Linked DNA regions of Homo sapiens: region 2 is linked to region 1. Evidence: fine-mapped expression QTL. Tissue or cell type: substantia nigra. Region 1 holds a variant in brackets; the other region holds the start of a gene. All regions are shown on one strand. Distances are from middle to middle.

Region 1 (2,686 bases):
AGTTTGCACAGGGCTAACTCAAGTTGCCTTTGAAATTAAGCAGATATTTGAGATAAAATTACCTAGCTGGGAATTTTTCTGAGCCATTTGCTTGTTTATGATAGCTTGAAGAAAACATACCAAGTCTGCCAAATCTGTAAATACATAGGGATTTAAAACTCTTGTCAAATAAGAAAAATGAACAAATTTAAGGTCATCTAACAGACTTCATAATATATTATATGAATATAGTAGGCTTATCTTTTCTTGCGTAGTAATACAAAAGTCCTGCATGTGTTCCCAGTATGTTGATTTATTTTTAGGATAATGTAATAATTTTGTTTCCAAAAAATGTTAATTATCTAGCACACCTGTCTGTCCTCAGACAAGCAAGTACAGGAGTCAGTTAACACTGCTCACTGTAGGCACTGAGACATCAGCCTGCTTGCTTACTGAGTGATCAGTGGGTGGGGTGGGGGTGGGAGACCTTCACCTACAGACACACTTGGGTCATGGAATCTGACAATGAAAGAATATGAGCACTATTTGATAGTGTTGAAAGCACTCAGAACTTTCAACACTATGGCTGTCTCCGAACTTGACAGAATTTTCCGTATCACATCAGCCAATATTGTACTCACCCGTAAGATATGGAACACTTGTATCTTAAGGAAAGGAAAGAAACAACTATTTGAGTGGTGACTTATATTCCCTTTATGAAATTTACTTATGTCACTCACATTCCAATAATAGTAAGCATACATTATTTTTCTATATTTCAGCTTACTCAGTATTGTGCTGATGATGTACATGAACACTATCTTCTTGGTTTACTCTGTTCTCCATTCACTTTAGCCAAATAATGTCAGCAACCTTTCTTATACTACCTCTAAACCCAATGGGCTATGACTCTGTCCAATTTCCTAAAAGATTTAAGTTCAGCTTGCCTCCCTAAATTGCTATCTAAAAGAATGTTTAAGGGAGCATCTCAATTTCCTATGTTCTGAAAGTTAACACTCAGAGATAAACAGGAATCACATTTCTACTATACATTCCAGTTATCTTCAAGCATTTCCCTTCATACCCTTGTGCTACTGATGCCAAGAATGCTATGTGCTCGGCTCACTCTCAGATGGAGAGTGAGTAATATGGGGCTGTCTTAGTCTGAACTGCTATTACAGATTACACAGGCTGGGTGCCTTAAATGACAAACATTTATTCCTCACAGTTCTGGAATCTGGAAATCTAAGATCAGGGTACCAACACAGCCGAGTTTGGTGAGGGCCTTCTTCCAGATTGCAGACAGCTGACTTCCCTGTCTATCCTCACATGGTGAGAAAAGGGCAGGAGAACTCTCTGGGGTCCCTTTTATAACAGCATGAATCCCATCCATGAGGGCAGAGCCCTCATGCCCTAATTACTTTCCAAAGGCCCTACCTCCTAATAC[C/T]ATTACACTGGGGTTAGGATTTCAACACTTTGTGGGGGACATAAACACTTAGTCCATAACAAGAGCCCTCTGCTTCCAGCATATATTGCTCTAATGAGAGTTATCAGGTAAGGGTTTAGCACATTTTAATCTCAAGTCAGTCAAAAACTCACATCACCAATTATCTGCAAATACAGAACAATTAAAATGGTAATTAAATTACTCCAGATATTCATCTAAAAAACTCTTTAGTTTCCACTATGCTCTACTGAAAAAAGAGTAAGTCTGCAATCATCAAGAGGTCTTAAGTCTAAAAACCAACTGCATGTCTCAAGGCATTTTACACTACTATCCAGTATAAAAGACATTCTAAAATACTAGATATTAAAGCATTCAGAACAATAACGTATGTCCCATTACAATATAGATGGGTTCCACTGTATCTACTTCAGGGAAAAAATGTATGCTTGGGAAAACAAGAGCATTCTTATCAATCTTGAAAATGCATAATTTCCAGTATTTTCTGTTGTTTTGTTTTCAGAATACTTTGTTCCTGGGGAAATATGCTAATTCCCTTGCAATTCTGGTCTACCTTTTTTTTCCTAGTTAAATGAGCAAATAAAGTCAAATTTTAAGCATGAAGTTAGATGCTTTCTAGGAAAAAAGTGATAACGAATATTTTTCAAGTAACTGAAAGCTATAACCATGTTTTCGCCCACTGGCTGCCCTTCAGTTCTTTGAATATGCCAAGCTCACCTGTATCTCAGGACCTCTGCACGTGCTCATCCCTCTGCAGGACTGTTCATTCCCCAGATCTTCTCATTGTTCCCTTCTTCTCAACACTCCTGCCCTAGCTCAGCTGGCACCTCTTCATTGAGGCCTTTCCTGATTAGTCCCCATCTCATTTCATTTCTTCATAGCTTTTACAGCTATTTTATATTATCTTGTTTATGTTTTTGGTTGCTTATGGATCCACAAGCTGAGATCCTGTCTATTTTGTTCACACTCTATTCTCAGCACCTAGGACAGTACCTGTCATATAGATGTTTATAGATTATCTGTTTAATAAATAAATAAATGAATGAATGAACAAATTAACCACATGTCAACTGAAAGCTGAGGACATGTAATTTCAAATAAACTTTGTCTGATTGAATTTTACTTGATTTCAAGAAAGTTTTAACAAAGTTACATATAATAACCTTGTGAATTTGACAGAAATATCAATCTACGGCCAGGCACAGTGGCTCACGCCTGTAATCCCAGCACTTTGGAAGGCCG
Region 2 (2,686 bases), 960 kb before region 1:
GAGGATGGGGGTGAAAGCCCAATGGCAACAGCTGCCTCCACAGCTCAAATACCCAACGAGATTTCCTTTCTCCCCATTCTTCAAGGGTTGGCATTGCAGATAAGCCCTCCCATGCAAAAGTCATGGGGGCACTTAACCTAAGAAGAATGTGGTATAAATTCTGCATCTTACCTTCACACCTTGTGATTCACTCTGCATGAATGTCACTTTATTACTACAAAGGCATAATTCTAGCTGCTAAATTTTTTTCACAATCAATAACCAGTAGTCTAGGCTCTAAAGCTATGTTTTTCAGGCAAAAGGAATATCACTTGGATGCAAACTAGAACCCTTCTAAAAAATGATTGATAGGTGGTTCATGGATGACTATCTGATGAAAGTTTGTAAGGGGAAAAACTCAGAAGTTCCAGATGTATATTCCTGACCACTGAGAAGGAAAATAACAATGTCTCCATGGCCTGGTCCAGTCAAAATAGCTACCAGGCTGAATCAGTATTTTTTTTTTTTTTTTTTTTTTTGAGACAGAGTCTCACTCTGTCACCCAGGCTGGAGTGCAGTGCAGTGGCATGATCTCAGCTCACTGCAACCTCCATCTCCCCCGCTCAAGAGATTCTCCTGCCCCAGCCTCCCGAATATCTGGGATCACAGGCATGCACCACCATGCCCGGCTACTCTTTTATATTTTTAGTAGAGACGGGGTTTCACCATGTTGACCAGGCTGGTCTTGAACTCCTGACCTCAAGTGATCCGCCCGCCTTGGCCTCCCAAAGTGCTGGGATTACAGGCGTGAGCCACGGCGCCTGGCCTAAATCGCCCTTTCTTATTACTTTCTTAGAACTTTGGGCTATCTCATTTATGAATGATGGAAGAGTTCTGCTGAGGATTTCAATTCAGAAAGCAGGGTTCTCTCTGTGGGTAAACTTCATATCACCCAGACATAATTTCTACCGAACATCATCAATTAAATAACAAGAGAGGAGGTCAACACCTTGAGACCTGAGGAAGAAGAAAAAATACTTATCATTAAGTGTAGGATGCAAACATTCTATTAGAAGCTTAGAAGCAAAGAGTAAGATATTATTTTCGTGGATACAAGAGAAGACAGAGAAAGACAGAGGGAGCGGCCCTTACGACTGATTTGTGTTTACACAATAAGGAAATCTCTCCTCTGGGGTCTCTCCGTAGTTCACAGGGACCCTGCTTCCAGGGGCACGCGTGGCGAAGAGAGTCCGTCCAGAGCTCCAGCCCTCACTGCACTTCCCAGGTGCCAAGACAAAACATCACTGGGTGGGGAGAGAACTGTCATGAGGATTATTCCCCCGCCACACAATGCTGAGCTTCTCTCCCTCTCTTTTTGAAGAAGTGCGTTTATGACTGATCGCTCAACACCTTGTTGGTTCTGATTGCAGAAAACACACCTTATAAATATATGATAACCATCCTGTAATAGAGAGTGTGACAATTTACTTCACAGTGCGTTTCGGGCTGCTAATTGATCGTTTCAGTCCAGGGACGATTTGGAATAAATTATAGCCATCAAAAGGATATCACAGCTCATTTTGGTGGAAGGGTTTCCACGTCGCTTCGCGTTCGTCTCCCGGAGAGAGCAGATTGCACCCGGCGGGCGTTGAGGAGCGGAGGGAGGGGGCAGGGGAAAAGGAGGCCAGCGGGGCGGGGATGGGCCGAAGGGCGGGGCCGGGGGGCGGGGCAGCGTCTCCCGCGGCGGCTGCAGGTCCGCCGCCGGACGGTAGAGGCCTCCCTTCCGAGGAGGCGGTGCTGGGGCGGGCGCAGGACTGCAGGCTGGGGCTCCGCTCCCCGGCGGGAGCCCGCGCGTGGTTCCCAGCGAAGTCCCCGCGCGGCTGGGCCCAGCGTGAGTATTCTCCGCCCGCTGTCCTCCCCCTGGAGGCGGCAGCGCCCGTTTATTTGAGGTGAGAGTCTCCCTCGGGCAGAGGGCCCTGCTTGGGGCGGGGGTGCTTGCGTGCGCGGGGTCTCACCTCCTGCCCGAGGCTTCCCCTCAGTGGGGCTGCTCCGCAGGGCAGACGCGGTGACCCAGGGCGCTGCGTTCTGCGCTCCTGGAGCTGGAGGTAGCGAGGCGTGGAGGCGCCGTGGCCCCGTTGGGGGCTTTGTGTGCACTTGGGGCTCGTGACTCGGATAGCTCTGGTTCCCACGTTGCAGTTGGGGAGGAGGCTAGTGGAGAGACCCAGTCTGGAGGGAGCTGTGCCCACCGCAAACCCCAGGAGAGGGCGTGGAGAGGGCCGGCCCGCCGGGACGGCGCAGCCAGGCGATGCCGGGGTCGCCCGGGGGTCGCTAGGGCAGCGGGTGACGCGCTGTGGAGCGCGGCGAGAACGACGGCCTCTGACCCCGGAGCGCTCGCCAAGGCCACGCCGAGGTGGCTGGACCCTGCCCCTCCCCGCTGCCGGCCTGGGCCCCAGCCTGCCTCAGAGACTTCGATTTCAGTTTCCAGCAAAAGTGTGTGCCATTGTGTGGTGGTCGTGGAGGAGGGAGACCCACGCGCCTGTCTATCGCTGGATGGGATTGGAATTTGAAGAAAAAATGTCCCTACTCCTGTTGCGGGTTCTTGCCTATCTGGCCGCCTCCAGTCCCGCCCACGAGACCTCCAGCTTTCATTTTCTTCCTGAACTAAAGCCCGAGGACTGAGGCCCTTCACGCGTAGCGTAGCCCCCAC

What was found. PIP is the estimated chance that this variant, and not a neighbour inherited with it, causes the effect.
Region 2: it holds the start of LINC01763, and the variant in region 1 is fine-mapped to the expression of LINC01763 in substantia nigra (GTEx, PIP above 0.99).

The regions. Positions count from the first base shown.
Region 1 is chr1:89,892,771-89,895,456 of GRCh38, reverse strand. All of the region lies in intron 2 of LRRC8D (leucine rich repeat containing 8 VRAC subunit D), which reads right to left. Among named protein-coding and RNA genes, the nearest start is that of LRRC8D-DT, 72 kb to the right of the region's middle. RefSeq lists a silencer at 933-1,227. The variant C/T (reference allele first, on the strand shown) is at 1,427.
Region 2 is chr1:90,850,725-90,853,410 of GRCh38, reverse strand. It overlaps LINC01763 (long intergenic non-protein coding RNA 1763), which reads right to left and starts at 1,652. Exons shown (of 2, transcript NR_146610.1): 1 at 1,132-1,652. It overlaps LINC02609 (long intergenic non-protein coding RNA 2609), which reads left to right and starts at 1,773. Exons shown (of 3, transcript NR_135038.1): 1 at 1,773-1,928. RefSeq lists silencers at 1,635-2,034, 2,325-2,444 and an enhancer at 2,228-2,686.